Regions from separate parts of the Homo sapiens genome. Here region 1 is linked to region 2. The links come from fine-mapping of genetic effects on gene expression. A gene starts in region 2. The other region holds a variant in brackets. All regions are shown on one strand. Distances are from middle to middle. Region 1 has its middle 72 kb from the start of PTBP2. Region 2 holds the start of PTBP2 (polypyrimidine tract binding protein 2).

Region 1 (5,386 bases), 72 kb after region 2:
AGGGTCTTCTCTACACTGTTTATTCTAGTTAGCCATTCATCTAATCTTTTTTCAAGGTTTTTAGCTTCCTTGCAATGGGTTTGAACATCCTCCTTTAGCTCGGAGAAGTATGTTATTACCAACCTTCTGAAGCCTACTTCCGTCAACTCATCAAAGTCATTCTCCATCCAGCTTTGTTCCATTGCTGGCAAGGATCTGTGATTCTTTGGAGAAGAGGATCTCTGGTTTTTAGAATTTTTAGCTTTTCTGCTCTGGTTTCTCCACATCTTTTTGGTTTTATCTATCTTTGGTCTTTGATGTTGGTGACCTACAGTTGAGGTTTTGGTGTGAGTGTCCTTTTTGTTGATGTTGTTGCTATTCCTTTCTGTTTGTTAGTTTTCCTTCTAAGAGTCAGGTCCCTCAGCTGCAGGTCTGTTGGAGTTTGCTGGAGGTCCACTCCAGACCCTGTTTGCCTGCGTATCACCAGCAGAGTCTGCAGAACAGAAAATATTGCAGGACAGAAAATATTGCAGAACAGCAAATATTGCTGCCTGATCCTTCCTCTGGAAGCTTTGTCCCAGAGGGGCACCTGCCTGTATGAGGTGTCAGTCAGCCCCTACTGGGAGGTGTCTCCCAGTTAGGCTACATGGGGGTCAGGGACCCAGTTGAGGAGGCAGTCTATCCGTTCTCCAAGCTCAAACACCATGCTGGGAGAACCACCGCTGTCTTCAGAACTGTCAGGGATGTTTAAGTTTGCAGATATTTCTGCTGCCTTTTGTTCAGCTATGCCCTGCCTGCAGAGTTGGAGGCTACAGAGCCAGCAGGTCTTGATGAGCTGCAGTGGGCTCCACCCAGTTCGAGCTTCCCTGGGGCTGCTTTGTTTACCTACTCAAGCCTCAGTAATGGCAAATGCCCCTCCCCCTGCCAGGCTGCTGCCTCGCAGGTTGATCTCAGACTGCTGTGCTAGCAGTAAGCAAGGCTCTGTGGGCTTGGGATCTGCTGAGCCATGTGCAGGATATAATCTCCTTGTGTGCCATTTGCTAAGACAGTTGGAAAAGCACGGTATTTGGGCAGGAGTGTCCATTTTTCCAGGTGCCATCTCTCACGGCTTCCCTTGCCTAGGAAAGGGAAATCCCCCGACCCCTTGCGCTTCCCGGGTGAGGCGATGCCCCGCCCTTCTTCAGCTCACCCTCTATGGGCTGCACCCACTGTCCAACCAGTCCCAGTGAGATGAACCAGGTACCTCAGTTGGAAATGCAGAAATCACCTGTCTTCTGAGTCGATCATGCTGGGAGCTGCAGACCAGAGCTCTTCCTATTTGGCCATCTTGCAACGGAATCCGATCTTTCCACTTTTAACGTTCACTATGTGGAAATGGGGAATGAAGAATATAAAAATGTGAGCTCAGAAGTTATACTTGACAATTTGAACAATCTATTACATCGGTGCAAAAGTAATTGCGGTTTCTGCCAGTGAAAGTAATGGCAAAAATCGTGATTACTTTTACATCAACCTAATACAATTACTCCAGCATCTTTCACATTTTGAGTAAAAAAAGAAAGACTCCATTTCAGGACTAATATTTTGGAGCCTCTGAATTTGCTTATAACAACTGACATCACAAAATCTGGAAAACTGTCTCCATACAAGACTCATATTTGTTTATTTGCACAAATTGCTAATGAAAGTTTAAAAAAAATGGCCAAGTGACTTAAAAATTAGTTAAAACAAATCTAATAGTGATAATGTTGCCCAGGCATTATCTACAAATACTTACGAATAGATAGTAATAGTAAACTAATGATTCTTAGGTGCATAGCATCAGAGGTTTAACCAAAGAAAAAGGGAAACATCAACCAAGAGCTTGTGTTTTAATAACACCCAAAATAAAAAATCTTCATTAAGTTGTTTTGTGGGGATCACTTGATCATCCTATGCTTCCTCTTATATATTTGTTATCTTTTTAAACTTTATTTTTCCATAGTGTTATTACAACAAATAGGTTAAAACACACACACACACACACACACACACACACACAAGCAGACAAGCAAGACATACTACCCCTAATGCCAATGCTGTAACATTGTTACAATTTCTACTTGACCATCTCAGACAAAGCAAATGGTCATGCTGGACTTCTGTTGGCTTTTTGAATGAAGGGAACTAAAAAAGCATTACAGCAAGAGCAGTGAATCAAGTGCAGGTTAAAGGAGCTATGAACAGGTGTAGATTGGGGCGTTTTTTTTTGTCCTAGGCCTGCTGCTGCTGTACTGGGCTTCATGGCACCTGCTGTCTTGCTAGGGAGTCAGACTTTGAAATGGATTCTTGTGTGGAACCATGGCTGGAAGTGTTGTTGTTGTTGTTGTTGTTTTCCACAAGTGCAGCACAAAGAAGCAGCAGAACCACCAGCCACCCACCTTGCAATCTGGCCTTGGTCTCCAGTTCCACTACCAATTCCTCTAATCACATACCTTGGCAATAACAAACAGGATCAACGTCAGGGACATGCTGCTGAAACAGAAGTGGTAATACCCAGCGCAGAGACAAATTTCACAAATTATTTATTATTAGCAAAGTACTTTGAGAATAACAGGTGACAGGCAGTATGAGTTCAAATAATTCTGTTATTAGAAATAGAGTTTTGAATATATATGCCAGAGGGATTCAGTGCAAAAACGAAGTGGATTCTAGGATCATAAATTCTACATTTCAGGGAAATTTGACACTGTCATTGCTTGCTGGCACATAGTGGAAATATTTAAGTGGTTGGACAATTATTTTAGTAGCTGACAAGTTATGGGACTTAACACATAATAGGTTGATGATGACTTGTTATTGCTTTCAGTTTGGTGGAACAAACAAAAGAAAATTTAGGGTTGTCATTATGACATTCAGAGTTTTTCCCACCCCTTAAGATTGTTGCCTTTTTCTGCATAGACATTATTACATCAAGTTTTGCTTTAAATTCAAATTTGGCTCTCTATGTAGAACCATGGTGAGACCACACCTAGAACAGTAATGCACCATTAATGGTGTCTGTATATCATCATAAACACCCATAGCCCAGACCAACTGTGGCAGTCATTCTCCTCACTCTTA[C/T]TGAATTTGTTATATATGACTTTTGGTTCCCAATAGAAAACCACTAAAGCTATCATTTCAGTCATAGCTAAAAAAAGAGGTTGCATTGTGTAGCCTAAGAAAAATTTGCCCTTTTTTGGAAAGTAAAGCAGCTGTAATTATTTCAGATTGCAATATTGGTACAGAGAATATAGTGCCAAAATACCCATTTTGGAAATGTGCATTGTTGTATAATTAAATCAGTTTCAAAACTTTAGTATAATATTTTATATGTACCAAATAACTCTTCTCCGAGTTTTCCAGAATGTTCTACATATATTAATTAGTCAAATCTCACAATATCCTTGTAGAAAAGTATTATACTAATATCTGGTTTTTAGTGGGAAGAAAACTTGGGGGAAAAAAGCAACATAGGATTACAAAGTAAGTTAGTGACAGAACAAGATTAGAATTCACAGCTTCTGAAAACATTTATAAGCATTTAAAAATATGGGTTCCCATGAATTATATGAGGGAGCAGGTAGCTCTAGGAACCATTTAGAAGTTTGGTGATCTGGAATGGTTTTTGATGAGAGATAATTCATACTCTATTAACTTAATAATTTGTCATAAAATTAGGCCCCTAGGTTACGGTGGGTTGACAGTTGGTTCTAACTATGAAGTTAGACATTTGTGATATATTTTTAACTTTTTACTCTGTAATACTTTCTGAAATGATTCACAAAGCCATTAATAAATTATGTATAACATACAGCAGAAACTTGTACATTCTCAGTATGTCACAATTGTAACTTTCAAAATCCATTAAATGTGTTTTCACATACAGAATTATTTTCTCAGAAAGAAAACATTCACCAGACTCATTTTATATGACCACTAACCTTACAAAACAGTTTATATAAAATATTGTGGCTTACTGTTAAATGTGGATGGGCAAGATGGATCAAAAATCTCTGAGAACTATGTGGAAATTCTTCGTCATCACAACATGCCCTGGGTATTTGCTCTCAGAGAAGAAAGCAATCTGATAAACCTATTTACTTTTAAATTATGGGAATTTACCCTTTTAAAAGAAAGGAGCCTGAAAAGATTGTTCAAGGAAGTTTTGCCCACTGTGGGGAGGATAATTTGGATTGTGCAGCCTTTTTAGTGATTAAGTATTGCTTCTATTTAAAAGTCTAGGTCTCCATAACAGAATGTCTCTGAGAAGATAGCCAAGAACTTGATGTCTAGTCGTCTCGATTCAGGTACAGGTGAATTGGAAGAGCAAGAGAGATGCCTTAAGAATTTACTCAAGTACTGCCTCAAGCAGTTTGGCATATGTGTAGCAGGCTGGGAAATAAATGGAATCATCATTCAAGTCTGAAATTCTGCTATAAGGAAAAGAATTACTTTTTTGGAAAGAAGGATTTAGATTCACAATGACTAAGAAGTAGTCCAGAAAACAGAAACAGGTTTTTAAGATGAAGGCCAATTCATGCATTCAACAAATGTTTATTCAACACTCACTATGTGCCAGACACTAAGTTAGATGATAGCAATTGAGTGGAGAATAAGACAGACCCCATACTTAGTCTCCAGTCTTTACAGAATGGGCTACAGAGAAGAAAAGAGGCAATCATAATATCTGGTGCATAGCAGGTGCTCAAAAAATATGTCAAATTAATTCATGAATTTAAAATGTGACTTTAAATGTGACTATCCTACTGTAATAAAACATTAGATACTATTTATGGGATTTTTATTAAATGTGTTAATTATGATGTAAGCATATTGTAAGCTTAAAAACATATTCACCATTGTGGAGTCATTGTATATGTACAAATATTAAATGTAGAGTTTGAAGTGTGATTGAGAGTAAAAGCTATTAATATAGTGCTAAGATATTGGAGACATAAACCTTAAGTGGAAATTACATTTTTTTGCAACTATTTCAAGGCTGCATTACAAGTATGTGGCAAATTGTATGTGTATGTTTATGCATAAAGATATGACCTAGGACAAAGGAGAGAATGAACATTGGAGTATGTTATTACTAGTTATTACTATTCTATCTTGTCTGAATTTTTAAACATGTAAGAACTAAAGGGAAACATTTGAAAATTTTCGTTTCAATGAGAACACTTGGACACAGGAAAGGGAACATCACACACCGGGGCCTGTTGTGGGGTGGGGGAAGCGGGGAGGGATAGCATTAGGAGAGATACCTAATGTAAATGACTAGTTAATGGGTGCAGCACACCAACATGGCACATGTATACATATGTAACAAACCTGCACGTTGTGCACATGTACCCTAGAACTTACAGTATAATAAAAAAAATTA
Region 2 (5,348 bases):
ATGTTAAGCATTAGAACTAAAGTTTAAACGATGAGTAGTTTTCTTAGCCAAAAAGGAAGGATTCCAAAGGATCTCTACCATAAAGACTTTCTTTAATAGACAAACCAGCTCTTAACTTCTAATTCAAATTTGAAGCTAACTGCCTCAACAACTTCCTTTTTAAGGATCAGTGTAATTCATTTCTAATGTGCTTTATTATTAACCAAAATATATTCATTTTCATGACAAAAAGTAATAAAAAACAAAAAACTTAGATTAACAAAATTATAAGATATAGGTCAAACCACTTACCATCCATTTAAAATCATTATTTCCCCTCAGAAAATTGGGGTATCGTTTTATATTACAAGAAGCCATGTGTGAAAGCATTTTCAATTTCTTGATCATTCATACTTACTTTAAAAGGTTATTCTTACAGACTGACAGTTCTAGAAAAACTTATGGTGATTACAAACTGTTTATATGGTCCAACTTTACAAATGAAAGGAAACATTTTACACTTGGGTTTTGTTAGCTACGTTATAGTTTTCAAAAGCAAAAGCTAAAATTTTCCAGTAATTATGATAATAGATCCAACAATCCCAGTTTCAAACATAGTATTTTCCTACCTTCACGCCAACTGCAACCTCAGTGACGATTCTGCAAAGAAAAAATAAGTAGTTTCAACCTCCTGTTATTCTTCTAATCACTCACTCTTTGGCTCTAAAACTTTTTAGGATAGTCCATCATTCATAAATCTTCCAGCCACTCACACACAGATGGGGATAAAAAATACCACAGATGATCCGTGACTTACCTGTACTGTTACCAACCTGGTTTTCTAAAAGTAACTTTCAAATGTGAGACAACTTGTGGTATTTTTTAACAACACATTCAATAGCCAAAAAGAACAAAACCCAAAACACTATGCCATTTCTACAATGCCAGTATACTGAGATTAATAATTTAACGCTTAAACTCTTTAGTAGTCTCCACAGGAACCAGGAATCAGGAAACATGAATTCTAGTGCAAGTTTTGACATCAATTTCCGTGTTGATCTGGGGGGAATACTGAACTTCTCTGGATTTGTTTCATCTGGAAAATAATCTTTAGGTAACATCTAGGATGATTTGAATTCTGTGAGACTGTGTTAACTTTTATAAAATCTTGTTTTTAGTACCTTTTAAAACACACCAAACTCTAGGCGCTTAACCAAATTGTTGATTCTTCAAATACTCACTGATTTTAATAAATGTACTTGTTAAATGATACTATGTTTACACTCCCAAAAGAGCTGCATACTGCTGTATTTTTGACCTTAAGCGTGCCCCCTTTCTAACATTGAGTTAAATTACTGAGTCTTTTCAGGTGTGAAGCATATGAGCGAGACATCGGTCCCTACCATTTCACAGTCTTGCCTCTCACCTCACTCAGCATTCCGTCTTGACTCAGGTTCGCAAAGATGCAGCATGGTTCTGGGTTTTTATAGTCGTTTTTCCAGAAACTGACCAAAGTAGCTAAAGAGATAGCCCTTTGTTGACTATCTGCTCTTGTTTCTGCCATTGCTGTTGGCCTTTGCCCATGTGACTGATGTCGGCTTCAAACACTTCGTTTTTTAGATGATTTAATTTCTGGGCCCTTTTGCCAAGCCTTGAATGTTTTCAGTCCCCACAAAAAGGCATTTTTTCCTCCCTCCCGCCCCCACTACCAGACTCAAATGAAAACAAAGGAGTATGACATCTGCCCTCCCCCTTCCTCCCGCCGCCGCACGCCCTCCCCCCTTCCCCAGCGGCTCCCACTAGGCTTTCCCCGGAGCTCCCGCCACCGGCATCTCTCCCGACCACGGAGGGCCGGGCGAGGCCGGAGAGGTTGCTCATGGCTGGGGTCCACATGGGGTGCCTCTCTCCTCTTCCCCTAGAGGCTCCCCCAATCCAAAGGCCTGTCTCTGCCCATCCCACTCGCTCTCACAGGCACCGCTAACCCAAGGGTCGGGTCCCAAGGTACGGATCGAAATGGCTCCTAGAGGGGGCAGGGACAGACCGGGGAGACGTTATGGGGTTCCCACCCCATCCCCCGCCGCCAAGCCGGTGCCCGCTCCCACTCCGGGATCCTCACCCCCGCCATCGCCCCTATGCCTCCCCAGCCTCCAAGCCCGCTTTCTTCTCATTTTCTCGACCAAAGCCCGCCGGGGGAAGCAAAGGGAGGGGTGTGTGCGATGGGGCGGGGGTTGGGTAACGGCAGCCCAGCCCTGGGAGGGGCCGCGGGAGGGTTTCTCCCCGGCCCGGGACCGGGCCGAAGGACGGTCCAACTCCTCTCTCACACACACCTTCTCGCCGGCCCGATTACATACCCGTCCATTGCCGAACCGGACAAAGCTTCGCTCACAAGAACCGAGCCACGCAGCCAGCGAGCCACACAAGCGGCGAGAAAATGGCGGCTGGGGCCCGACGGAAATTGCCGAAGGTGCCGAGGCGCACGGGCCACCGCGCGGCAGCGGCGGCGGCGGAAAGAGCCGAGCGCGCCGGCGCCCGGCAGCGGGAGGCGAGCGGCAGGGCGCTGGGACTAGGGGGAGTGGGCGCCGCAGCCGACGCCTCCTCCGCGCCTTCGCGCGCCTTTCTCCCTCCGCCCTCCGCCTGCCGTCCTCTGGAACCTGGCGTTCTGCTGCAGACCGCGGCGACCTGGTTTCCCCTCCTTGTGGGGGCGTGGGTGGGACACCTCCCAACAGCTCTCCACACTCTCTCTGCCCTGACTGCAGGACGCCCCCAGGCAGCCTCCACTTTTCACTCCAAGCCAAGTACCAGCTTGGCTACCGTCAACCTATGCGGGCCAAGGAAAAAACATTGGATAGCTTTTCTCCTAAGCCATCTTTTATTTGCAGACCGGCTCCAGCCTCTAAAACAAAAATCTTTACCCCACTGAACGAGACCACTTGGTAACAACAGTACTTTCTCAAGCAAGTAGAACTCCTCAGACTGAAATACAGGCTTTTGCTTCAAGACCTGTAGTACCAAGCCAAGTGGAGGAAAATGTGATTCTCACTTCAGTTGGTGATTAGTGTGCGCCTGTAGAAAATATTCACAATACGCTAGGTGGAAATAGACACAAATGGAGCCATGTGTTAAAATGCTACAATAGTTGGAGTTTAACATTTGGAGGCATGAAAGGGAAAGTGGAGATGGGAGTGGGAACAACTGAGTCTTCAGATTGGTTAGAGAAAGTAGAAGCATTAAAATGGGCTATGCAAATTGACTCCCTTTGCTATATCTTACGGTCTCAATTTTTACTTGATACTATAGTGGACATTTTACTTCAACGTGTTTTTATCAGAGGCTCAACAAAATTGGGAAAGGCACCCGCTTGAAAATTTGCTCAGTGAGTAGCGACTTTGCCAGTACCCATCCTTCTCCTGCACCCTTCACCTCCACCCCCAACACACACAAGGACAAATGCACTTCTAATTCTGAAAAATGACAAATACTCCCTGTGTCCCTCCAGTTACTCTCAATACTCACTCTGGGTTTTTCTGTGTCTCCTTCAGGCAAAGCTCTTATCCTTTGCTAATTGGAATTTCATATACTAAATGATATTGTGTATAATTTTTAGAATTTTTTTTTTTGAGACCCAGTCTCGCTCTTGTTGCCCAGGCTGAAGTGCAATGGCGCAATCTCGGCTCACTGCAACCTCGGCCTCCCTGGTTCAAGCGATTCTCCTGCCTCAGCCTCCCGAGTAGCTGGGATTACAGGCACGCGCCACCACGCCCAGCTAACTTTGTATTTTTAGTAGAGACAGGGTTTCTCCATGTTGGTCAGGTTGGTCTCGAACTCCTGACCTCAGGTGATCTGCCCTCCTCAGCCTCCCAAAGTGTTGGGATTACAGGCGTGAGCCACCGTGCCCGGCCATAAATAATATTACTTTTAAATTGGATAGACCCTTAAAGAGCATCTTGTCCAAACACTTTGCTATAGAACTCTTCAAAGCACCCAAATTTTTACAAATTCTTGATTTGCCTATGGGATTGTCAATCGTTAAAAAAAAAAAAAAAAAAGGCCGGGCACGGTGGCTCACGCCTGTAATCCCAGCATTTTGGGAGGCCGAGGCAAGCAGATCACCTGAGGTCGGGAGTTCAAGACCAGCCTGACCAACATGGAGAAACCCCGTCTCTTCTAAAAATACAAAATTAGCCGGGGTGGTGGTGCATGTCTGTAATCCCAGCTACTCGGGAGGCTGAGGCAGGAGAATCGCTTAAACCTGGGAGGCCGAGGTTGCGGTGAGTCAAGATCGCGCCATTGCACTCCAGCCTGGGCAACAAGAGCGAAACTCTGTCTCAAAAAAAAAAAAAAAAAAAAAAACCACATATCAAATTTCCTACAATAACCACTTCACCTTAAACCTTAAAATAAAGGATCTGTTATTAGTGCCACTAATAATCACTTTTCACATATTTGTGGTTTCATACATGTGTTTTCACTCAACAATTGAATGTGCAAGCTACCAAAGGGCGGGAACTATGGTATTAATTCTTGGTATTCCCCACATTCGCTCGATCGATATTGATTGATTGGTTCTCACTTTATCTTGGCAAAGACAAACCATTCTATGAGGAGGGAAGCTTGTCCTTAGGCAGCAGAAGAAATTACAGTGTTCACAAAAACACATTTTTCTTTATTTTTTTTTCGAATACGGTACAAGACCACAAACATACAATAGTTAATCTGCTTGCTTATTTAAGCTAACAGTTTCTTGGAAAAATGCAAGGTAATTTACAAGTCAAGGCACATAAAGTACTAGATTAAGACATGAAGTGAAATAAGAATAAAACAAGAGGACAAAGCATAGCATGAGTCAGGAATGAGGCTAATGCAACAGTGTACACAAAAGCATATTGATTAAAGCCTGGATTCAGATTTGAGCTCTTTCGTTTAATACCTGTGTGACATTAGGCATGTTCATTAACCTCTCCAGGAAACTTTCCTTTGCTGAATATAGGATTAAAAATAGGGCCTTTGGACCTGGCACGGTGACTTAGGTCTGTAATCCCAGCGCTTTGGGAGACCGAGGCGGGCAGATCACGAGGTCAGGAGATTGAGACCATCCTGGCCAACATGTTGAAACCCCACCTCTACTGAATATACAAAAATTAGCCGGGCGTGGTGAAACGTGCCTATAGTCCCAGCTACTCAGGAGGCTGAGGCAGGAGAATCGCTTGAACCAGGGAGTCGGAGGTTGCAGTTAGCCAAGATCGCGCCACTGCACTCCAGCCTGGCGACAGAGAGAGGCTCCATCTCATAAGAAAAGAAAAAAAGAAAAAAATAGGGCCTTCATCCTAGATGACTGTGAATTAAATACCTTAACGTATCTAAGGCACCTC

Evidence for each region. PIP is the estimated chance that this variant, and not a neighbour inherited with it, causes the effect. A credible set is the group of variants that fine-mapping cannot tell apart.
Region 1: its variant is the best candidate, but not a certain one, in a credible set for the expression of PTBP2 in whole blood (INTERVAL, PIP 0.83).

Annotation. Positions count from the first base shown.
Region 1 is chr1:96,647,189-96,652,574 of GRCh38, reverse strand. No RefSeq gene overlaps it. Among named protein-coding and RNA genes, the nearest start is that of PTBP2, 72 kb to the left of the region's middle. The variant C/T (reference allele first, on the strand shown) is at 3,082.
Region 2 is chr1:96,718,855-96,724,202 of GRCh38, reverse strand. PTBP2 (polypyrimidine tract binding protein 2) reads right to left here and starts at 2,419. Exons shown (of 14, transcript NM_021190.4): 1 at 2,331-2,419; 2 at 609-639. The coding sequence starts at 2,338. RefSeq lists silencers at 1,944-2,223, 2,454-2,653.